4 linked regions of the Homo sapiens genome follow. The protein of the gene in region 1 interacts with the protein of each later gene in a biochemical or structural test. Each region holds a gene or a part of one and is shown in the gene's direction. Other genes may lie near its edges.

Region 1 (7,037 bases):
CTCGGCTCACTGCGACCTTTGCCTCTCGGGTTCAATCAACTCTCCTGTCTCAGCCTCCTGAGTAGCTGGGATTATAGGTGTGCATCACCACGCCTGGCTAATTTTTGTATTTTTAGTAGAGACGGGGTTTCACCATGTTGGCCAGGCTGGTCTTGAACTCCTGACCTTAGGTGATCTGCCCACCTTGGCCTTCCAGAGTGCTGGGATTACAGGCGTGAGCCACCGCACCTGGCCTCTTGCTTGCTTGTTTTCTTATCTCCTCCCTTCCTCCCTCCCTCCCTTCCATTTCTTTTCCTTCTTTCTTTTCTTTTCTTTTTTTTTCTTTCTTTTTTATTTTTTTTGAGACAGAGTCTTGCTCTTGTCACTCAGGCTGGAGTGTAGTGGCATGATCTCGACTAACTGCAACCACTCCCTCCCGGGTTCAAACGATTCTCCTGCCTCAGCCTCCCGAGTAGCTGGGACTACAGGCGCCCACCACCACACCTGGCTAATTTTTGTATTTTTAGTAGAGATGGGGTTTCACCATTTTGGCAATGGCTGGTCTTGAACTCCTGAGCTTGTGATCCGCCAACCTCGGCCTCCCAAAGTGCTGGGATTATAGGCGTGAGCCACTGTGACCGGCCCATTTCTTTTCTTTCTTTGGGGTCTTGCTCTGTCAGGCAGGCTGGAGTGTAGTGGGGATCATGGCTCACTGCAGCCCTGAACTCCCAGGCTCAAGTGAACCTCCTAACTCAGTCTCCCAAGTAGCTGGGACTACAGGCACTGGTCACCACACCTGGCTATTTTTGTTGTTACTTTTTGTGGAGACAGAGTCTTGTTGTGTTGCCTAGGCTGGTCTCAAACTAGCCTCAAGCCGTTTTCCTACCTCAGCCCTCAAAAGTGCCAGAGTTACAGGCATGAGCCGCTGTGCCTAGCCAATAGACTTCTTTTCATTTTCTAAATTAATGTAGATTATTTTCAGCTTCTGAAATAATAGAAGACAGTTGAAAACCATGATTACTGTGGTCTATTTCTCCTTCAATTTAACTGTCTTCTTTGAGTCTGTAGAAGAGATAAAATTTCATGGTCTTATAGAAAGCATCTGAAATTTTGAAATGAGCCATCATATAGGATTGCTTGACCTATTTTCCAATATTCAGCAGCTCTCATATGATCTATTGTTTGTTAAGGGGGCGGTGGATACAGTCAACAGAAAAAACTTTTTTTTTTTTTTTGGAAACAGGGTCTTGGTCTGTTGCCCAGGCTAGAGCACAGTGATGCCATCTCGGCTCACTGTACCCTCTGCCTCCCAGGTTCAAGTGATTCTTGTGCCTCAGCCTCCTGAGTAGCTGGGACTACAGGCATGCGCCCCATGCCCAGCTAATTTTTTGATTATTTGTAGAGAACGGGTCTCACTATGTTGCCCAGGCTGGTCTTGAATTCCTGGCCTCAAGCAGTCCTCCTGCCTTGGCCTCCTAAAGTACTGGGATTACAGACGTGTGCCACCACTCCCAGCTCCAGAAAGACTCTTTATCAGACCATGAATTATACTTAATTTGCGAGTAGATCCCGACTTGAATAATCAATCTGCTCTTTACTGACACAGCCGCCTTGGGTAAGTTACCTAAACTGAGCCTTAGTTTCTCCATCTGTAAAATAGTATAATGAAGATAATGATGTAGATAAATACTTAGTAGGGTATCTGGTGCCTAAGAGGTACTCAGTGAACTTTTCTTTCCCTGCCTAGGTTTAAATTAGAAAAGAAAAAGGTCAAATTAGGAGTCTTTTAGTAAGCCCAAGTGAACCATAGCATGAGAAATAGGGTGTAAAAGCACTGAGAAAAATCTTGCATTTTCCTCTGAAAGGCACACTATTAGCATAGTATAAGTTCCCAGCAGCACTGGAAAAATGACACAAGTATTTAATAGATTAGATTAAATCTGAGAAAAGTACGTTTAATGGCATCTTTGTATCAACTGATGTTTTATTTTTCATCCCACCCCACCAGTTCTCTTTTCTGTAATATTCTGGGTAACCTTTTCCTGATTCCGTAAGGAAAATGTCTGCAGAGAATAATAAATATGAGTAAGGCTATGTAGCTAATTATAGGTTACATTCTCTCTGACTCGTCTCAGCAAACTTACAAAGACCAATAAGAACTTGAGGAGTATTATTCCTTGTCTGTCTTTGTCCTTCCCCTTACAATTCTACTTTGACTCTGTTACTTTCATATACAGTTGACCCTTGAACAACATGGGCTTGAACTGCGTGGGTCCACTTATAGGTAAATTTTTTTTTCAGTAAATACAATCAGCCCTCCGTATCAGCAGGTTCCACATCTATAACCAAATGCAGATAGAAAATATGGTATTCAGCCAGGTACGGTAGCTCATCCCTGTAATTCCAGAACTTTGGGAGGCTGAGGTGGGAGGATTGCTTGACCCCAAAAGTTTCAGAAGTTTGAGACCAGCCTGGATAACATAGTGAGACCCTGTCTCTATAAAACAGCTTAAAAATTAGCCGGGCATGATGCATGCACCTGTAGTCCCAGCTATTCAGGGGGCTAAATGGGAGGATTGCTTGAGCCTGGGAGGGCAAGGCTGTAGTGAACCTGATTGCACCACCGCTCTCCAACCTGGATGACAGAGTGAAGCCTTGCCTCAAAAAAAAAAAAAAAGAAAGAAAGAAAGAAAAGAAAATACGGTATTCATACATGCAAAACTCCCGTCTACAGAGGGCGGACTTTTATATCTGCAGGTTCCTCAGGGCCAATTGGTATCCACAGGCAGTACTGAATCCAACCCTCTGAGCGACAGCCACACTAAACTTGTGCTCAAAACCCTCAAGAACACAGAGTAATCTTAGGCAGCTGCATCCTGGCGTTAGCATGCCAAACTTGGGAGTAGATATCTGTTACTTGTCTTGCGTGTTGTCTGGTCAGGGAAGAAAAAAATATTAAGCAGAACTTCGAGTTCACATGGAAAGGATGTGTCCTTCAGAATGACCTCATTGCGATGTCAGGGGTGATTCCTCACGTTATCCATCTCCCAGTTATATCTGCTTTCTTTTTTCTTTTAAAGAAGGCAGCACAGAGGTCAGGAGTGCATTCACTCCTAACTCTGGAGTTTTGCTTTTTTTTTCCTAGGAAGCTAGCAAAGACTGACTTGTAATTGGCAATAATCACCTCTAGGAATAGAATTACAAAATTACATAATTTGTGATATTTGGGCTTCCTTACCCCAGAATGTCTCCCGACCCACAGGATACTATATCTGAAAACCTCACTAAGGGTGCCTTTTCCAGGCACTAATGGATTAGTGTATATTATTTTTCATATTTTCTTCTCTGTCGGGCATTGAGGAGTTACACATGACAGGAATAGATAACTTCAGAGCATTACTGCCTGGGGAGGGCAGGCTTTGGAGAGGTATCTCGGTTGGGGCTTTAGGAAGTGATGGAAAAGCATGAGGCTACCTGGGCAGATGTGGGGTATTATAGAAAGGAAAGGTGTGCAAAAGTGTGGAGGTGAGAGGGTACAAAAAATAATCTCCATTTACTTTTTGTAGTTGCAAATAGGAAAGAGTGACAAAAGAGGAACAGTAGCATGGACATGTGTATGTATGATAAAGCTTAAGACTCAAACAATTAGCAAATTAATAAAATACCTGGTTCCTTTTATGCTTGTATCTAATGAATGATATCTTTATATCTTGATTATATCTTAGTGTGGAAACTTTTTGCCTGAAGCACAGTCTATGGCAAGCAAGATAGAAACTTAAATTTGGAACTTAAAATGCTTTTTTTCATGAGCACTAATGGCTTTAATCAAGGCTCAAAATCTTTTTTTTTTTTTTTTTGAGATGGAGTCTCGCTCTGTCACCCAGGCTGGAGTGCAGTGGCACAGTCTTGGCTCACTGCAACCTCTGCCTCCCAGGTTCAAGCAATTCTCCTGCCTCAGCCTCCCGAGTAGCTGGGATTACAGGCGCTCACCACCACTCCCGGCTAATTTTTGTATTTTTAGTAGAAACGGGGTTTCACCATGTCGATCAAGCTGGCCTCGATCTCCTAACCCCGTGATCCATCCGCCTCGGCCTCCCAAAGTATTGGGATTACAGGCGTGAGCCACTGCGCCTGGCCCTCAAAATCTTAAACCATAAAACAGCTATGACAGTAGAATTATAAACAAGGCCAGGCACGGTGGCTCAGGCCTGCAATCTGGGCACTTTGGGAGGCTGAGGTGGATAGATCACCTGAGGTCTGGAGTTCGAGATCAGCCTGGCCAACATGGTGAAACCCCATCTCTACTAAAAATACAGAAATTAGTGGGGCGTGGTGGTGCATGCCTGTAATCCCAGCTCCTTGGGAGGCTGAGGCAGGAGAATTGCTTGAACCCAGGAGGCAGAAGGTGCAGTGAGTCAGGGTTACACCACTGCACTCCAGCCTGGGCAACAGAGTGAGACTCCATCTCAAAAAAATAAAAAAAATAACATGATAGTAGTGGTTCAATTAAAAACAACTGAAAAGATTTAAATTTTTTTGTTTGTTTGTTTTTTGAGATAGGGTCTTGCTCTGTCACCCAGGCTGGAGTGCAGTGCCATGATCTTGACTTACTTCAGCCTCAACCTCCTGGACTCAAGCAATCCGCCCACCCCAACCTCCCCGGTAGCTGGGACTACAGGTGTGCGCCACCATGCCTGGCTAATTTTTGTATATTTGGTAGAGATGGGGTTTTGCCATGTTGCCCAGGCTGAACTCCAACTCCTGAGCTCAAGCCATCCACTCACCTCAGCCTCCCAAAGTGCTAGGATTCCAGTCATGAGCTACCACACCCAGCCAAAAATGACTGAAAAGATTTATATGTGATCATATCATACACTTGCAATAGCAGTTTTTGGTTTGTGGCTCTAGTGATTCTTTGCGAGCTTTGTGCTACTGTTACATGCAGCTTTGTTTCTAAGAGCCATGTAAATACTTTGAGAGTACACCCTGTTTTTCTACTTATTTGTTCATTCAGCTATTTTTGGAGTATCTACCATCAGATCCTATTAGGTGTTAGAGATACAAAGATAAAATCTCTGCCTTCCAAGAATTCAGTCCAGTACATTCTTGGGGAATTAAGTTTTCTGCTTATCAAAGAGTATATCCATGGCAAGGTTTCTCACCTCAAATTGACATTTTGGGTCAGATTATTCTTTGCTGGAGGGCTTTCCTGAAGAGTGTTGTAGGATGTTAAGCAGTTTCCCTGCCTCTACCTACTAGATGCCATTAACCAGCCCCATCACCTGGCCCAAGTTGTGACAATCAAGCAACTCCAGACATTGCCAGATTCCTGGGGTCAAATCTGTAATAAGAACCAGAGTTTATCTGTGTCATTGACCGTGAGTTTTGATAAATGAGTTTTGAGAAAATTCATACAAAGCTAGCAAATGTAACAAAGAACCTAGATCCGTTGCACAATGCTTGTTATTACTCCACATGACTTCTCAAAGAGGAATTAGATAACAGCCGTGCTGAGTAACACCTACGAAATGTTTTATTTTTTAGCTTGGATGTCTATGAGATCTCCTTCTGAGTTACTGTGTATAGGAGAATAATTGTTTGGTTTCTTAGGGACTCCAGTAAAACAACAAAACAATATAAGCCACTGGAGGGGAAGAGTCTAATGCATAATAAAAACCTTAGTCTTTTCCGAGCTGTTTGTACCAGCATTTCCCTTTTCTTGTTAAGAGTGAAAGTATTTTCTCCAGTGAGTGTCCTGGACAACTGGCATATTTAGAAATGTTTCCTGTGTTCTTCAGGCACATAACTTCAAATTTTGTTACTTTACTAAATTGGACTTTTCTTCACCTACTGCTTTTCCATGTTCAGACAACACATGAAGAACATTGAACAACCAAAAATTCACTTTAATAGTCTTTTAATGCTTGTCTTCCAGTAATGCCTTGCTTCTCTAAGTAGAGGATCCACTTTCCTGTTGGAAAGAGTACTTCCCTAGAAGTCCTAAAACCTGTATTTTAGGTTCACCCTTGGCACTCTTATTAAACATTCATTTAGCCTCTCTCGGTCTTGATTTCTTTACTTGTGGTAGACTAATAGATATAGAAAGAGGTTCTTTTATCCTGTTTTCCTGATAAGTTCCTAAATTCCATAAATCTACACTTTTTGCTCACACAAACTTTTATATATCCTTATTCTTATACAATATCCACATTTCCATTTCTGTGCCTAATAGAGTTTTGATTCATCATGGATAATCTGTCATCAGAAGAAATTCAACAGAGAGCTCACCAGATTACTGATGAGGTAAATGTTTTACCTAAAATAAGTAAATAATTCTATTTCAGTTTTCATATTGGAGGAGTGAGAGAGCCTTCTTAGGGACATTTTGGCCTCTTCCTAGTCCATTAATATCAAAGAACACATTTGCTCCTTAGTGCCATTGCTGGTTTTTATTTTCTTTTTAACTCACCAGAAAACTAAAGTGAAAACAATTTGTATGATTTTTATTTTTTAGGTAATTATTAATATTACTTAAGTGTAACAAAGATACTCTACTATGTATTTGAGAAATGCTAGACTTCTATTTAACAATTTCCTAATATCTGTAATTTACTTAGATTTCTACCTACATTAAATTTTTATTCCCATGAACTTCACCATCCAAATATTCTCTTTTTTAAAAAAACTTTTTCTTTCAACATCACACTGGAAGTCCTTACACATTTTCTCTTAAGGAGCGCCTGAAAATAACTAAAAATGTAGTGATCAACTTACTTTTTTTTTTTTTTTTTTTTTTGAGACGGAGTCTCACTCTATTGCCCAGGCTGGAGTATAGTGATGCGATCTCGGCTTATTGCAACCTCTGCCTCCTGTGTTCAAGCGATTCTCCTGCCTCAGCCTCCTGAGTAGCTGGGATTATAGGTGTGTGCCACCACGCCCAGCTAATTTTTGTATTTTTAGTAGAGATGGGGTTTCACCTTGTTGGGCAGGCTGGTCTCAAACTTCTGACCTCGTGATCCGCCCACCTCAGCCTCCCAAAGTGCTGGGATTATAGGCTT
Region 2 (7,037 bases), on another chromosome or scaffold:
AAGAAGTCTAGTTTTGTTTTTTGTTTAGGGTAAACTTCATGATCCAGAAGGCATGGGAATTATTCCAAGAATAGTGCAAGATATTTTTAATTATATTTACTCCATGGATGAAAATTTGGAATTTCATATTAAGGTAAATTCCTTGAGGAAAGATTATATTTTATTTTACAGCAAGAATAATGTTCTAAAAAAATAGTAAATGCTGGTTTCTTTAATTTTAAAAATTGTTTTTCTGGAAAGGTACAGTTGAAAGATCATTCAGGTTAGTAAACTTGGATTTTTGTTCATCTGCCATTAGATGAACAGGAATGTTAACTAACGTAAATGATTAAGTCTTTAGCCTCCTTCAAAAAATAAAGGAGGTTGCTTTACTGCAGAACTTGAAGGTTTCTACTACATAAAACTATTCTAATTCATTTTAGATGAAGATAATGTAATTTATGTCCAATGGGAAGACTGCTTAAATAACTAAGCTAATTTGGCTAATTTATGTCTTCCCATTAGAATGTGAGCTATGGCTGGTATGTTGATAACTGTCTCTCTAGTCTAAACAATGCCTAGCACTCAGACCTCAATATGCGAATAAGTTATATAACTTTAGTTGATCGGTGTTTTTTTAAATTTGCCCTTTAGGTTTCATATTTTGAAATATATTTGGATAAGATAAGGGACCTGTTAGATGGTAAGTTAAATTCTTGCTAATCAGTTTTAAATAACATCTGTTAATTCCTTTTTAATAATAGATGTGAGACTATTTCTTTGTAACCTATATGAAATTGTCTTAAGTTATTGGAAATAGACAAAATTTTTTTTCTTCTAAAGTTTTAGTTGAATACCTTTAAATAGAATAACTAGTTTAAAGCGATGTTTATGGGTACTTCTTAGTAGTAATTAGAGCATTGGACTGGGAGTTACATAATCTGAGCCCTGAGTTCTAGTCTTCTGTCAACTGTCAATTAGATACATTGTCCTTAGGCAAATCATTGAACCATTCAGGGTTAATGTTCTTGTTTATAAAATGTGGGTGGTAGGTTGGAGTGGTCCTAAAATTCTATATTGTTGCATTGGTTTCTATTTACATCTCCTGCTGTGTCTGTAAGGTCTGCTTTAGAGCAATGTTTTAATATGTTTTTAGAGTTCAACTATTGCTGTTAGGCTGCTCAGGAAAGCCTATCAGTTATTTCATATCCAGTGTTAAGAGTTTTAGGAGAATGTTGCTAACATTTGTTTTTCTTTCTCAGTTTCAAAGACCAACCTTTCAGTTCATGAAGACAAAAACCGAGTTCCCTATGTAAAGGTATTTATAGTACAGTTGTCTAGAAAACCCTGTAATACTTTTTTTTTTTTTTTAAGACAGAGTCTCACTCTGTCGCCCAGGCTGGAGTGCAGTGGTGCAATCTCGGCTCACTGCAACCTCTGCCTCCAGGGTTCAAGCAGTTCTCCTGCCTCAGCCTCTTGAGTAGCTGGGATTACAGGCATGCGCCACCACGCCCAGCTAATTTTTGTATTTTTAGTAGAGACGAAGTTTCACCATGTTGGCCAGGCTGGTCTTGAACTCCTGACCTCGTGATCCGCCCGCCTCTGCCTCCCAAAGTGCTGGGATTACAGGCGTGAGCCAATTCATTTAATATATGGAGGCTCGCTCTGTTGCTCAGGCTGGAGTGCATGGCATGGTCTCGGCTCACTGCAACCTTTGCCTCCCAGGCTCAAGCGATTCTCCTGCCTCAGCCTCCCAAGTAGCTAGGATTACAGGCACCCGCCACCGCGCCCGGCTAATTTTTGTGTTTTTATTAGAGAAAGGGTTTCATCATGTTGGCCAGACATTAACATATTTTTAAAAATTATTTCACAGGGGTGCACAGAGCGTTTTGTATGTAGTCCAGATGAAGTTATGGATACCATAGATGAAGGAAAATCCAACAGACATGTAGCAGTTACAAGTAAGTAGAAAATAACACTGGTTAGGATTTAAAACCAGCTTAAAATATCCTTATCCAGGTGATTAATTATAAGATTGCTTCAGGGAAATTGTTAAGGGGAAATCATGTTTGTTTATATTTGTTTGTGTAATTTCCTTGCAGATATGAATGAACATAGCTCTAGGAGTCACAGTATATTTCTTATTAATGTCAAACAAGAGAACACACAAACGGAACAAAAGCTGAGTGGAAAACTTTATCTGGTTGATTTAGCTGGTAGTGAAAAGGTAAAGTCTTCATGTATTTTGACAAATATTTAAGCATCTTTGTAAACTTTAGTTTGAGTTGGGAGTTACGCAGGGTTCATTGTTGCATCTTACTTACCAAACTGGATTTGGTAACCTGAGATTTGTAACCGCTGATGCCAGTGCCTTATGATGATATCAGCTGAATAATCAGTTCCAAGTTACTGTTGTTTGACCATACTCTAGTTCAACCCATAAGTGGTTTCTATGACTTAAGATATGTTCATAGTGAGAACTGGTTCAGCATATGTTGTTATAAACTTTATTAGATATCCCTTTTCTAATTTTTGATACGTATTTTATCCATATTGGCAGTGGGGTCCCTATTAAAACTGGTAACTCTCGATTAGTCTTTTCTGGTTTGGTTGGACTTATTTCTTTCCTTTGGATTATTGTTTCATTATTACAATTCTATACAGTCTGATTCTAGTCTATATCAAATTAAGTTTGAATGTTATAATAGGGACCTCTGACCATTTTTGCTGTTGTGCTAATTTTGTTTCTTCTGCTTAGAATGATATATCTATTCCGTTCTACTCTGAAGTCTTACACACATCTTTCAAAGATTATCTAATCTGAGAAATCTCCTAAGCTATTTCTTCAGCCAACATTGCTAATTTATTGTTCTGACCTATCTTTAACATAGATACTAGCTGGGCATGGTGGCACATGCCCGTAATACCAGCTACTGGGGAGGCTGAGGCAGGAGAATTGGTTGAACCCGGGAAGCGGAGGTTGCAGTGAGCTGGGATCAAGCCACTGCACTCCAGCCTGGGTGACAGAGTGAGACTCAGTCTCCAAAAAAAAAACACCACAACATAGATATTTAGATATTTTATATATTTTTAAAAGAAGCAGATTTGCTTATATAATGTGTTTAAAACTCAGTCTCTGTTTTCTAACAGTTACAACATCAACATTATGCATTAGCCAATTTTAGAAGGTTCCTGTTTTCTAATGTAGCAAAGGGGACTAACAGATTAATGAACTACAAATTTACATTTAAATTGGTTATTTTCAAGAGTACCTACAAACTACAGATAAAATTTGATGTCTCTCTAATCAAACTCTTAAGAGTAGTACTCAAGAAATGGTGGTATGCTTGGCAAATAAGATCATGAAGCTTTTCATGTTCTTTTTTCTTTTTTACTGGTTATTGATGACATATGAACATTTTAGAAAATGTAAAGAAAATTATAAACTTGTAATTTTGTTTCATTCTTTTGAAATCTTATGTATAGGTTAGTAAAACTGGAGCTGAAGGTGCTGTGCTGGATGAAGCTAAAAACATCAACAAGTCACTTTCTGCTCTTGGAAATGTTATTTCTGCTTTGGCTGAGGGTAGTGTGAGTATACATGTCTTCTATCTCCCTGTTACCTTATGGGGCATTATTTAAATATAGGTGTATATGTGTGCCTGGGTGTGTATGAGAGAGAGAGAGAGAAAGAGAGATTGAGATTCAATGTGTTTGAATCAGTATGTGTAAGTTAGTTGTCTTTTGGGAGTTTATTTTATAATAACATTTTATTATACTGGTCTTGTTTTCTTTCTTTGTTTTTGTATGCAGACATATGTTCCATATCGAGATAGTAAAATGACAAGAATCCTTCAAGATTCATTAGGTGGCAACTGTAGAACCACTATTGTAATTTGCTGCTCTCCATCATCATACAATGAGTCTGAAACAAAATCTACACTCTTATTTGGCCAAAGGTTTGTTGTTAAGAAAGTACAAAACCTAAATTTAGATAGACCTTTTGTTTATAAAATGTAGGAAAATGTGAGCTGTTATTCCAACCTGTACATACTGTTTTGTGCTAGACACACTCAGTTTGAATTGATGACAGATAATACAAGGTGGGTCTGATTTTTAGACTGCTTGGTTTAAGTTTTAGTACACATTAAAGTCAGATGTAATTTTAGTCAAATTTGTGTGACAAGCTGTAATTTGGTATTAAAGAAAATAAGCATTTGAATCAAATAATGAGGTCAAAGCCTGGCAAACATAATCCTCTGTTAAGCCTGTAGACATGCATGACAGGTTAATATAATCTGTATGAGATGATTAGGAAAATCAGTAATGATGATTCCGTCTTTGACTTTCAACAGTAATTTCTTAATTCAGCCTTGCAAACAAATTGGAAAAATATAGGCCTTTGTCTTTTATTTTTAGTGGTTTGTTGATTTTTTTTTTTTTAAAGCTATTCACAGATTTTGGAGCAGACTCAAATTTAGTTGAGTTGTAAATAACGTCATATGTTGCGGCTTTTAGTATTTAGTCTAAGAGATTACTGGACAAGCATAAGTTTCTTAGCCATATATACATATATTCCATATAGATAAAATTAAAAATAATTTCAGTCTCATCCTTTTTTTCCTCCAATTACATCTCTTAGGGCCAAAACAATTAAGAACACAGTTTGTGTCAATGTGGAGTTAACTGCAGAACAGTGGAAAAAGAAGTATGAAAAAGAAAAAGAAAAAAATAAGATCCTGCGGAACACTATTCAGTGGCTTGAAAATGAGCTCAACAGATGGCGTAATGGTAATAACTTAAGAATTTGTCATCTTCAGTTTGTTAAATACAGATTTAGAGCATAGAAACGTAGAAATAGTTCAGCAAAATCAGTAAGTGACTAGATCAAGAAATTTAATAGACATCGAAATAATTTTTAAAAAAATTAATAGAAATCCTGGAGCTGAAAAATAAAATGAGCAAAATGCAAGAGACCATCAGTAGTAGAATTAATTAAGCAGAAGAATCTGAACTTGAAGACAGATTATTTGAAAATAACACAGAGAAGAAAAAGTTTGAAAGAACGAGGCTGGGTGCACTGGCTCATGCCTGTAATCCTAGCACTTTGGGAGGCCAAGGTGGGCAGATCACTTGAGGTCAGGAGTTAGAGACCAGCCTGGCCAACATGTTGAAACCCCATCTCTACTGAAAACACCAAAATTAGCCTGGCATGGTGCTGAGCGCCTGTAATCCCAGCTAATCAGGAGTCTTGAGGCAGTAGAATTGCTTGAACCCTGGAGGCAGAGGTTGCAGTGAGCCTAGATTGCACCACTGCACTCCAGCCAGGGTGACAGATTGAGACTCTGTCTCAAAAAAAAAAAAAAAAATTTTTAAAGGAATGAAATTGAAATTAGCTTTAGACGTCGTTTTTTTATTAACCACTTTATTTTCTTATTTTAGGGGAGACGGTGCCTATTGATGAACAGTTTGACAAAGAGAAAGCCAACTTGGAAGCTTTCACAGTGGATAAAGATATTACTCTTACCAATGATAAACCAGCAACCGCAATTGGAGTTATAGGAAATTTTACTGATGCTGAAAGAAGAAAGTGTGAAGAAGAAATTGCTAAATTATACAAACAGCTTGATGACAAGGTAGGTATTGCTTGATTTAGGTCTGCTTTATATTAGGATACTATTGACATGGGTGTTTTTATTTTCTAACTTTTCTCATTTCAGTGCTGTGGGCACTTAGGATCTTTATGCATCTTCCTTGATTTCTGTTAATCTTGTAAAAATTATTGTATTAACAAAATAAAAAGTCATAATTTCAATTTCTGTGTGGAAACTGTATGAGCATGTATCTTTTCTTCCCCCTCTTTTTAAGCTAAAAGAACTTTATAAGGCAGCAGTCCCCAACCTTTTTGGCACCAGGGACTGGTTTCAGGGAAGACAGTTTTTCCGTGGATCAGGTCGGGGAGATGGTTTTGGGATGAAACTTCCACCTTGGATTATCAGGCATTAGATTCTCATAAGGATCCTCTAACCTAGATCTCTTGCATGCACAGCTGATAATAGAGTTCGCGCTCTTAATGATATTCTAATGCTGCTGATCTGGCAGAAGGCGGAGCTCAAGTGGTAATGCTTGCTGCTCACCTCCTGCTGTGCTTCTTGGTTCCTAACAGGCTTCCAGTACTGCTTTGTGGCCTGGGGGCTTGGGGACCCCTGTTCTAATGAAAATTTGGCATTGGGTCATTGGGAGCCTCAATGATACCAATTGTTAGAATCAGGGCTCTGAAGACTCCAATAAAAGATGATGTGAGAGATTAAGGGAAACACAATAGAGTGGAAATAATATCTTCCTGCTTTGCATATAGAAGTAATGTCAATAGTATGAATAATAGCAAACTAAGAACGTAATAGAATGGAAGGCAAGAACAAGAGTAGTAAAGAGATTAGAAGAAAATATTTTCTTAAGTTGATATTTTTAATATATTTTAAGCAGAGATGGCAGGTTCGAAGTACATGACCATTATAAGTATTGATAATTGAAAGAAATTCCTTTTGTTTTGCCATTTTCTTAAAAGAGATTAAAATAAGCAATGTTGAATTTAGAGAAATGGTTTTGAAATATTTCTGGGGAGTAGTAATCTTATAACCTGTATTGGGAAACAACTAGAACCAGGTTGTTAGCTACTGGTTAACCGGATACTTCACAATTCTAGGATGAAGAAATTAACCAGCAAAGTCAACTGGTAGAGAAACTGAAGACGCAAATGTTGGATCAGGAGGAGGTGAGTTGAATACCTTTTACATTGCTTCCAGAAAAGCTTTATAGTTTTGTTTTCTGAATCCCATTGACTTTGTCTTTAATAGTTGTATAATTTTGGGTATGACTGTCTTTGTGGGAATAAGAATGTCACATGGATAAAGTGAATTTTTACTTATTCATCGTATCTACCCAGATACAATCTGTTGTTCATTTCCGCCATCTTTTTTTTCACCCTGGTTCTTGACATTTCTCTTCTTGTCACTTACTTTGGATCCTCATTTTATCTTCTCACCCAGCAGAGCAGG
Region 3 (7,346 bases), on another chromosome or scaffold:
GTTACAAAAATCTTCTTTCATAATTTAGTGATATCAACTCCTTAAGAAAAGATGGTATCATTGGGGTAATATAGAATACTAAATAGTCACTGTTTGCAAGACACAGTGCCAGATGCTATGTTCTGTGGGGTAGGAAGGGGAGAGAGGACAAGAAATTTTGAAGAGCCACTTGAGTGTGATAGGCTTTTAACTTTAACACTTAGCCCACCTCTTAAAAAATCCCAAATTACCCCAAACAACCACCTATAAAATCACTATTAACTACTACTTTAAACTATTCAAAGATTTTTATTTTTATTGTTAGTAATGGTGTAAAAAGGTATCTCTTCCACTGCTAATAGCAGTATAAATCAGTAAAATTCAGCTGGAGACCACTTTTAACCTTATGTTATAAAGACTTACGATGTTATACATTGTTTAGCCCAGCACTTGTGCATTTAGAACTTTATCCCGAAGAAATAATTACTAGAGTGTGCAAACATTTAGCTGTAACAGCAGAGGTTTATGATAGTGAAAACCTAGGGACAATTGAAAAGTCTAAAAAGAGGATATTAAATAAATTATGATAATACTGACATTAAAATAATATCATAGAAGAATATTTAATGACATGCTTCATAATATTAAGTGAAATGAGCAAGTTACAGAGCAGTATAATCTACTTTTTCTGCATATAAAAAATTACTGTAAGGACATAAACCCATATGTTATTATTGCTAGTTATCTCTAGATGTCAAAATTATGGAAGAAAGTTTTCTTTCTTGTTTTGTAGTTTTTCTAATCTATATTGTTTAAATTATCTGTACTATTCATGTGATTGCAAAGGAAACAGTAAAATGTATATATTTTAAAAATAACTCTATTTCTAGTGTTTTCTTATTATCTTATGAAAACCACTGTCCAATTTCTTTTGTTCTGCTTGCATGGCCCTTTGGAACTGGTGTGGCTTTAAACCAAGGCTGTCTCTTTGAATTCTAAGGTCTACTATACAGTCTGTGAGATGTCTACAGAGCTTGAATGTTCAACAACATATGAAGATGAGTATTGTTTATATTTCCAGTTAGAAATATCATTCTGAGTTTGTAAAAAGATGCAGATATTTTAGCTTAAAATTGAATGGATGCATCAGAGTTAATTAGCAATGCTTCAAATTACAGACCACTGCCTCTTCTTGTGCAACTAACCATCAATTAGCTATGCTAATGAGAAAAGCAGGAAATGATTGCAGGAGAAAATGAAATCAGTAGGGAAAAAAGAAAAACAACTGATTTTAGTCTCTAGTTTCAGCCATCAATTGTCAAAACTTACCAGGATTACATATAAGTATAAATTCTAACCTCTCTTTGAAAGAGGCAGTGTATTAATAAGAAAGTAATGTTAATTCTTTAGAAGTTTTTTCTTTTCTCGATTATCCTTCAGAGATGCCATACCTAAATAATAAAATGACCAGAATATGAGCAGCAGGAAACTTATAGACAAAAGGTTCGTCAGTGGTTCTAGTGTAATCCCTAGGGGAACACTTAAAAAAATATCAGCATAGAGGTCTTTCTCCAAACCATTTAAATCAGAATCTCTGTGGAAGGTGCTAATTAATCCATAAGATGCAAAATGTATTTCAACTTGATTCCAGCTGCTGAATATTTGCTTTACTCTGAGTTCTCTTTTTGGACAGGAAGGGACTCTGATAAACCACCTCTGGTTCTTTCATCCCCACCTCCATCACTCCATTTTTAGGCAGGAGAACTTTCCCAATGAGACAGTCTTACAGGTGTCTCCTGTAGGATCTTTAAATACCTTCCTACTGGCTCTCTTCTCTGTTAAGGGCTTGGATGATTTTCTCAAAGAGAAACTTTTATGAGGGAATGCAGGATTCCTAAGCAGTATCTCCCTACCCAGTGCCATGATAAATATTTGGATGCAAAGAAAACAGGAAATAAGTCATTGAATGGAGATTGCAGCTCCCCAGAGAGCTCCAGATGACAGGCTCCTGGAAAGTGTTCCAAGTTCTGTTTGTTCTCCAGTCCTGAGAACAGTAATCTTTGCGGCTGTACTTTTCCTCTTCTTTCCCTAGATTTCACTTTTACAACTTTAAAAAAGTATAATAGCTTGCATTATATGCTTACTGCACAAAGTTTTAAGACAAAAGAATTACAAATAGCAAAATTGAAATCATCTGTGAGCCTCCCTCTTCCCCACTCCAGAGAAACATATCATTAATGTCATTAATGTATATCTTCCATGTTTTCTATGTGTAGAAACATGTATTTTATTTTACAGAATTGAGTCATCATATATGTACACTTTTGTAACTTGCTTTTTAATCTTAACCTTATGTTTTGAGTTTTCTGGATCATCAAGCTTCAAAATCAAGATTTCTGTGTATGCAGCAAAGCCCATCATAGATATTTACTATCATTTATTTAACCATCCCTCCACATTAGATCTTGATTATTACTTCTGAAATCTGCCTTGTTTTATCTTTTTCCACTATTTATCAGAAAACAAGATCAGCCCTGGTGGGTTCATACCAATTACTTTTCCTAACTGGTGCTTGACATTGTATCCACTAATTTCCTAAAGTCACAGATGATAATTACAGATACTGAACCCTTACACCCTCCTATGCTACATATGCTTTTCTCCAATTTTTGTAACCAGCACTTGCTTAATCGGTGATAATACTGCTTTTCTTCCTTTAGGCTAAGCCACACTCCTCAAAAATCCTGAAGTTTACTTCACCGTCTTCCAAATATGTATGTATGTATGGAAGATTCATCATTTTAGTAGCTAACTTACACTGAATGTTACTGTATATACTGTGACAATAGGTTTATATGATTTTTTAATTTGACCTTTATGATAATAACACGGGGTAAATACTACTATTATTCCCATTTTACAAAGAAAGTGAGGCTTCTTTTGAGTAACTTGCCCAATATCACACACAACTAGTAAGAGGCAAAGCTGGGCCCTGAACCCAGAACTGTTTTCTTCTGAACCATTTTTTTCATTATTATTAACTAAAGTCCGTGTTTATTAAAATTTTCTTAATTTTTACCTAATGGCCTTTTTCTGTTCCGGCATCACACCCAGGATAAAACATTACATTTCTTTGTCATTTTTCATTAGGTTCCTCTTGGCTATGACAATCTCTTAGACTTTACTTGTTTTCTCTAACAGAGTCATCCCTCATCAGCTACAACACCATAGCAGATATAATTCATTGTGCATTACTATGTATGGTTCTGATCCTCACAGCAACCCTCCAAAACAGATGTTTTAATCCTCATTTTATAGATAAGAAAATTGAGGCTTAGGGAGATGAGAACTAATGGTGCAGTTCACAAAGCTGGTAAATAATGGAACTCAGATCCTGACCCAGGACTATCTGACCTTGAGTGTCATGTTCTTTTCACTACTCTGGTTTAGATGACTTATACATGCATGCTTTTTATAAATAAATCTGAATGCTAAAACCAGAGTCAGGGTGCCATAAAGAAAAGTTACATCTGGTTCAACTTTCTTATCTAATATCCAAGCACTTTCTATAGATTATCCAACGAAAATTTCTAAATATATAGTCAAAAGGTATCAGTGTAGTTTGTACACGTTTCCACAAAGCCTTGCCCAATTTTGAACAGTCCTGATTGTTAGAAAGCTCTGTGTTCCTCCAACTGATTTTTATCCTTTGGTCTTAATGTGGCTCTTAGGAGCCAAACACAATCATCTAAGCCTTCTACCTAAGTACCCTGCAGGCAGACACATCTCCCCCAGACTCTCTTTTCCTGGCAGAGTACGGCTTAGTTTATATTTTCCTCAGCATCCTAATGATGCTACTTTAAATCACAGTGACTTGCAGTATCCCTGTTTAGTTGCAAGTCCTTATAGTGCATTTTGGTACAGCAATGTGTATGTCCTATACAATCAGGACTCAATAATTGCTGTTGACTTCTTCCTTAAAGGGAACCACTTACCACCATCACCATCCCTTCTCGCCTCCCCTCTCCACACACTACATTTCTAAATCCTCAAGTCCAAAGGACCCTAACACTGACACTTCTTGCAACCCTTTAAATGAGGCAGCTCTCCCTAGAAAACCCCTTGAGACACAAGTTTGGAAAGTGAGTCAAACGTAAGAGGGATGTCTTCTCCGAGTCTGAGAAGCAAGTTAAAGGGCAAAAGCAGTGAGCCGTGGACGCCTGGAGACAGTTTCTTTCTTCCTGAATTCCCCAAAGCGCAGAGACAGACAGGATCTGCCAGGACAGCGCGCAGGGCGGGGCGGGGACAGGCGCGCCAGGAGCGGGGCGGGCTTCCAGCCGCTGGTTTTGCTGAGGGCTGAGGGACGGCTCAGCGACGCCACGGCCAGCAGCGCTCGCGTCCTCCCCAGCAACAGTTACTCAAAGCTAATCAGATAGCGAAAGAAGCAGGAGAGCAAGTCAAGAAATACGGTGAAGGAGTCCTTCCCAAAGTTGTCTAGGTCCTTCCGCGCCGGTGCCTGGTCTTCGTCGTCAACACCATGGACAGCTCCCGGGAACCGACTCTGGGGCGCTTGGACGCCGCTGGCTTCTGGCAGGTCTGGCAGCGCTTTGATGCGGATGGTGAGTAGAACAAGCCACTTGCACACTCAGGTGTAGACGTGGCTCCAAGCTCAGCCCGCTGAAAGGACCTGGAGTTTCCCCTTTACTGTAGGAAAAGTTATCGACCTGGGTTGTTAATGCAGTGTACCTAATACAGTATCATTAACAGACGTTTGGCATACTGGTGATACACATCTATATACCTTGTTAAAATTCTGGGTGGTGAATTTCCACTTTCCCCTTTCCAATCTCTCTTTGTGTGCGAGCGCGCCATATATATGGTAGACATACATATATATTGTATATACAATGACTAATATCATTGTATATGTTCAAGGCTTGTGGGCTGAGACTCAGCTATTTGAAGTCATCCTTCCCTAAATGGGCTCACTTTTACGCAGTGACTTTGCTGTACACCCCTCACTCTCTCAAAATGAGAATAAATTTTATCAGCTTTCAAAACGACTCCTCCACCAAAAAACTACTTGAAAATAAAATGGAACTACTTAATATTTGTTTTTATTAATAAAGAAATAAAATATCTAAAAGGTGTGTTTTAACTCTGCAAACTGGGATTCAATACTTACACCTGTTAAGTTTCTCCAAGCTTCAGAAATTTTGGGGTTAAATTTTATTGGAAAGTTCACGTTTATTCATTGATTAAAATTCATGTACTTAATAGCCTTCCTTTTCCAAGCACTAATATAAACCCTAGCATAAAGCACGTATTCTGGAACAGTGTTTACTGTTCAAACCCATGTATTCTAGAGGTAGGTGTTGGCACTTTGTTATTGGAATAACAAAAAATAGTGTTGAGGGAAGCTTTATGAATTGTGAGATTAAAAACATATTTAGATAAATACTGTCATGTGTTTTTTATATGTTAGTATTATTTATGTTTATTTTCTCACATTTAGAAAAAGGTTACATAGAAGAGAAGGAACTCGATGCTTTCTTTCTCCACATGTTGATGAAACTGGGTACTGATGTAAGTACTTGCACACTAAGCCTTAATTTATGCCTCTTAGTAAGATACGCACATCCAAGTCTTATATTGATTGGTACCTATTAATTCCAACTCACCTCCTTTCTTCCTTGCATGTATGTAATTTCTCCCCCTCTCCTAGCAACATAGAGGGATTTAGGCAGTTTTTATAAAAGGTGCAACTGTAGCATTAGACATGCTGGTTACTGACTTTCAGTGTAACATCTGTCATCCACTCAGAGATCCTAACTGTAGACTCAGTTAACTTGGTCTTGAACGTCTCCTTGGTTATGTCTCTGCTAATTGATTTATACCTGGGGGTAAAGTAGCCCACTTTGTTCAAAAAGCTGGAAAAGATGTTAAGCACATTAAGATTTTGGGTGTTTAATATGTATGATACTCCTCTGATAGCAAACCACAAACCATTTAAAATCATTTATCCATTATTCATTTTATTAGAAGAGGTTACAGATTTTTCAGGGAATGACAAACCAGAAAACAACCAGCATACTCAGAGCCCAGATACAAATGGAAGCCAATCTATCTAGTGTCCATCTGATGGTAAATATGTCCTTGGGAGATGTAAATGAACTCTTGAAAGTCTCTCTATCAAAGCAGAGAAAAATTTTACACAGAAACACATGAGCGGAGGACAGCCTGGGGATGGGCTCGATCTGATGAAAGCTCCAGTAGGGCATTCATAGTAGAAGGAGACGCTCTAGGGACAATTGAATTTAAATGAATGATGGAGATAGTTTGTCCTTATCATTCAGCTGTTTATCTGAAGAATAGAAGTGCATCACATTCTCATGTGAGAGCTCAGTGAGGGAACAAGGAGCTCTTCACCACTGTTGAGAACATGGGGAGGGTATGTGGGGGGCAGGGGAAGCTGGTTCAGAAACAAAAGGGCTGGCTTCCGCCTTCTTCAGCCACACAGATCTCTTGGTCCCCCTCTACTTCTGTCTGCCTCTCATATTCTGTCTGTCTCTCTTTTTTATGTCTATCTCTGTCATTTTTCTGCTCACTTCTGTTTCTTATCTCTGTGTTTCATGGCTCTCATCTCCTACTGTTTCTTGCCTTTCTCTCTGACCTCTCTGTTGCCCATCTTTCTTGTCTCTGTTTCTCATTTGTTTCTCCATCTCTCTGTCTCTGTGTTTTCCCATTCTTTTTCCAGTCTCTCTGCTTCTCAAAGCTCTTTTGGTCTTTCCTCTCCCCATGTCTTTTATTTCTCCTTTCTTCTTTCTTTCCCATCTCTCTTTTTGACCTTCATTTCTTTTCTCCACATTTTCTCCTTCACCCTTTTCTTTGTCTCTTATCTCCCTTTTTCTGTACCTTTTATTGCTCTTTGTCTGCCTGCACTCCACCCCTTACCCTGTGCAGCCTGTGAAGTGAAAGGATCAGCAGACGAGAAGGATAGAGACACAAGTCCCTTCTTTCCTCTGGTCAGACCACTTGCGCACACTCCTCTTTATCCTTCATTCTTGTACCTACACAAGCTACAGGTAGAGCTGAGGAAGCCTCCCCCAAGTGAGGCTTCTGCTTCAATCTAGCCAGCCACTTTCACGTGCTAGCAGCCCATGGTGAAGCCCACCAGCCTTGCCCACAGGGCTTCTACTTATATCTGTAAATGTAAGGTTCATCGTGTTCCAGAAACCCATCTTATCTATCATGGACATGGGTATTTGAGGAAAGCAAAAAGACAAAGTTAAAACCATTCAAAATCTTGGAATAAATGGGATGGCCAGCTCCTAAAAATCTGTCCTCAGGGACCTGGAACTTCTCAC
Region 4 (3,962 bases), on another chromosome or scaffold:
TCCTCCAGTCATGTCCAGAAGCCCAAAGTTACCTCCAAGCAGATAACTCTGACCCTGCTTCTCCTCTACCACAGCTTGAGGGTCCTCTGCCTTAGACAGCTGGATTTATCTAAAAGAGAAGAGCAGTCATAGATCTGTAGATTTTATACTGGAAGTAATTGTCATGGCCTTGAATGGTTCCTTGCTCAGGTTTCTCTTTCTAATATCACATTTTAGGCTCCTGAGCTTAGCTTCTTACTTATTATTTGGTCTGGGAGTTTAGGTTGATTTGTGCAGCTGAATTGTTAAATTCAGAATATATTTACTGATTACTTATTACATGCAGAGCACAGCTCTAAATGCAATATCAATCTTTGCGAAAAGGTGTTGTCACCTAACGAGATGTACTTCAGCTTGAAAAATCCTTATATTACAGCTGTGACAAATAGTCAACTTTACATCAAGTTGGTAAACTTTACATTTGTGGCATGTGTATGTGTGAGTATGTGTGTGTATGTGTGAATATGATGTCAGAAGTTCAACCTATTCATTAATAAACAGAATTTGCTGTAATCTGCCCCCCAACCCTGGCAATATTTATAGTTCCCTACAAGGCAAAATGCTTTGCTCACTTTTGGAGCAAAGGGCATGCAATTCATCAATGCATCCTTTTCCAAGCTTGCAAATAATGAAATCAGTCACTTAAAGATCTCAAAAAGTTGTAATTTAAAGCAAAATAAAGCCAGGCATAGGGGCTTATGCCTGTAATCCCAGCACTTTGGGAAGCTGAGGCAGGAGGATTGCTTGAGGCCAAGAGTTTGAAGCCAGCCTGGTCAACATAGTGACACCCTATCTCTACAAAAATAAAAAATAAAAAATAAATAAAATAAAGTGACTAATGCAGTGAACCTAATGTTTAAAATCTATTTTTTGTGATATAATAATGTGAACAAGTAGTGACTTTTATAATATAATTTAAAATTATAATCTAGAATTAAAAAGCAAACACATCTGTAATAGCACCAGTATTTTTGCAGTGTTACTTACATCATCTGCTTTTCATTGTTTTGGTCATCGTAATTATTGTGTCATTATCCACTGAACAGTTCGTAGCAGTGTTCTTGCTCATAAGTGATATAGATGAAAGCCTTCTACTCAGGCTTTTAAAATATATTCTTATATTAATCAAAAATAAAATTCATGTGCAAAACCTAAAAATATAATTAATGAAACCATACTTCAGGAGAATTATGGTTATTTGTGATTTTTTTATGACTTGTTAATGACACATCAGTATGAGTTGCTCATTTAGCCTTGATTCTGCCGAGTTACCAGTGAAGAGCAACAACCCCACTGCTTTCTCTCCCACTGAAGGAAACGCTAGAGTTCAAGTGGGTGTGAGTTATACCAAAAACGACAATGTTAACTACACTTCTGTCTTGGAAAATACTTGTTTAGTGTGTTCCATTACTACATAACTGCTACTCTAATGGAATCAGAAGTATTTCTTAATAAGGCTCTACTTTCCTATATATATTATTTAGAATAATATGATTGATTCAAGAAAATAAAATTGCTCTCCTCGTCCCTCCAGGTGTTCATCTATATCATTGTTTCACCTCTCTGTGGTGGATTTACATGGCCAAGCTGTGTGAAGAAATAGGAAAGAAGAAGTTACCATTAACCAAGGATATGAGAGAACAAGGAGTTAAAAGCAATCCATGTGACTCAAGCCTTTCACATACTGACAGATGGTATCTGCCAGTCTCTTCAACCCTCTTCTCACTTTTTAAAATCTTGTTCCATGCCTCCAGGTTTATCTTTGTCTTATCTACCAGTTTATTCCTGTGAACTTCAGATTGAACCATTCATTGCAGCAGTAGCCTTAAAAAGGCTTTTGTTTATTTCTTTGGTTTGTTAACTAGTGTCATCTATTTAGAGAAACATTTTTGTTTTTAATTGCTCAAAGCTGTCGCCGCTAGTCTTATGAGCTATCTACTAAAACTATGGAGAAACTTTGTATGTGCACACAAAAGTATTCAAGAGACAGTATTGCTAACATCTCATCTTAATGTCTTTTGTTATTGAGAAGTTTTAGGTGCTTCAAAACAATATAAATGGATAATAGTTGTTATTTGGGGAATTGTAATGATGTTGGTGCTGCTTCCTTCTAAGAGCTCAGACAAGTAAAGTATGAAACATTCTTATTTCAGTTAGATGGGGAACATTTTGCTAGCCCATTAGAAGCACACAGAATTATCCTTGTCCTCCTAATATTGACTTTCAGGAATAAAGTTCAGTGTGCTGATCATTCACAATACAGTGGATAGCTTGATATCTTCTGTTTTCCCATTGCAGTTGATTTGAGAAGATGAAGGTTTAAATATTGTTGAAAGTTGCAGTTTTTTAAATGTGTTCCTTTTTCTTCTGTGAATATTTAGGGCAATCGTGTCGCTAATAGAATATGTAGTAGAGGGGGTGGGGAGGTAAATTCCTCTGACTTGCCAAAGAAAAAGAAGGGAACCACAGTGGATATGCTAGCATTTTAGCTGTGCAAAGGGAGGTAGTGTGGGAAAAGTGTTTCCATTCTGGGAAAAGCCCAAACCGAATACGGTCAGCAGTCAACTCCAGGGTTTGGGCTTGATTCCTGTTGAATAATAGTTTTGAGCATTCTTTGTGGTTAAATAAATTCTTAAATCTGCCTAGTTTTGATGAATTCTTTTGTGAAACTTGAAAGAGAATAGACAGTATGACATATAGAATTAATACAAAACAGTTTAACAACCATTTAACTGCAGTGTAAGAAAATTGGACTGTAATCATATCGCTACTGGCATCTGTTATCTAGTATGCATTTCTGGTGTGTATCTGAAAGGAAGACATTTTCTACCCTAGATCCAATTGCATTTATTTATCAATAAGTGCCATTAAATTGAAATTATATTACATTTTACACTTTCTCAATGAATGAACAAATTAGTCTGTAGAATCTAGCCACCTGTTTAGCCTAGTCATGTGCCTTGAACATATATGTGTCCCATAATCTGGCTCATGGTACCTGTTCTTCTATCCAAACCTTTCAATTCATGCTACCTGATTCATTTATTTGACATAGATCTTAGGCCCACTTGAACTCTTTTCTTGTTTATCTAGCATAGCACAAACGTTTTTCCAGTCTTCTTTATCAACACTAATGCCTCTTAATTGCATCAGTATTTCCTATTGGAAAATACATCTGTTCCAGAAAAACATTTGGCATTCCTGAATAATTTCCAAATGTTTTTAATCCAAAGAAAAAGGTTTAAAGCTTATTTCCCTTTCTTATACACACCTGAATAAAATTGATGTGCATGTTTTAGGGATCAATTACCTAACTGTTCCTTGGTCTATTTATGTATAAGAATGCTTTTTAAAGCACATGTCTCATTTTAAATGACGCACAAACTGAAGATGTTAATAAAATTTAAGAGTAATACAATGATTTGCTTGTTTTAGAAGTTCTTTCTGGAACCTAATTTCTTCTGATGACATTTGCCATTGTTTACAGAACAAAAGTATTTTACTTATGCGGAAAATATATTAAGAAGTGTTACCTGGAGACTTCCAGTAAAGATCTGTAGCATAGTCTCAGGTGTGTAGAATTTCTTCAAAAGACACAAATGAACTTAAAAAATATATAGCCCATGCTGAAACCAATGAAAGATTCTGAGATGATCACACAGCCTTCACAACTATCGTCCTGAGTGCATGATTTAGACAGAACTGAAAAAGAACCCCAGGGATTTTCATCCAGTTTAGCACAATTCTGAAAAATCTTTCTATCTAAAGTTAAATGACTGGTTCTGAAAGAGACTCAAGCGGAAGGCATAATGGTGGGAGGGAATAATTCATTATAGCAAACAGGGTACCTAAACAGAAATAAAAGAAAAACAGGCACAAATCAAATATACAAATAGATAGGTCACAACAAAATAATCAGTCAC

Evidence for each region.
Region 2: the proteins of SNAP23 (region 1) and KIF5B form a complex in vitro, tested with the Homo sapiens proteins (one study listed by BioGRID).
Region 3: the proteins of SNAP23 (region 1) and SCGN form a complex in vitro, tested with the Homo sapiens proteins (one study listed by BioGRID).
Region 4: the proteins of SNAP23 (region 1) and VAMP7 form a complex in vitro, tested with the Homo sapiens proteins (one study listed by BioGRID).

What each region holds. Positions count from the first base shown.
Region 1 is NC_000015.10:42,505,622-42,512,658, forward strand, and holds part of SNAP23 (synaptosomal-associated protein 23), read left to right. Parts: intron 1-6,211; 5' UTR 6,212-6,225; coding exon 6,226-6,282; intron 6,283-7,037. UniProt on the Homo sapiens protein: Essential component of the high affinity receptor for the general membrane fusion machinery and an important regulator of transport vesicle docking and fusion.
Region 2 is NC_000010.11:32,032,423-32,039,459, reverse strand, and holds part of KIF5B (kinesin-1 heavy chain), read left to right. Parts: intron 1-28; coding exon 29-133; intron 134-633; coding exon 634-682; intron 683-1,241; coding exon 1,242-1,297; intron 1,298-1,852; coding exon 1,853-1,940; intron 1,941-2,081; coding exon 2,082-2,206; intron 2,207-3,465; coding exon 3,466-3,570; intron 3,571-3,792; coding exon 3,793-3,938; intron 3,939-4,621; coding exon 4,622-4,770; intron 4,771-5,421; coding exon 5,422-5,615; intron 5,616-6,685; coding exon 6,686-6,754; intron 6,755-7,037. UniProt on the Homo sapiens protein: Microtubule-dependent motor required for normal distribution of mitochondria and lysosomes. Can induce formation of neurite-like membrane protrusions in non-neuronal cells in a ZFYVE27-dependent manner.
Region 3 is NC_000006.12:25,647,888-25,655,233, forward strand, and holds the start of SCGN (secretagogin), read left to right. Parts: upstream 1-4,327; 5' UTR 4,328-4,516; coding exon 4,517-4,598; intron 4,599-5,494; coding exon 5,495-5,565; intron 5,566-7,346.
Region 4 is NC_000023.11:155,940,310-155,944,271, forward strand, and holds the end of VAMP7 (vesicle-associated membrane protein 7), read left to right. Parts: intron 1-1,573; coding exon 1,574-1,642; coding exon of another isoform or gene 1,643-1,830; 3' UTR 1,831-3,460; downstream 3,461-3,962. UniProt on the Homo sapiens protein: Involved in the targeting and/or fusion of transport vesicles to their target membrane during transport of proteins from the early endosome to the lysosome. Required for heterotypic fusion of late endosomes with lysosomes and homotypic lysosomal fusion.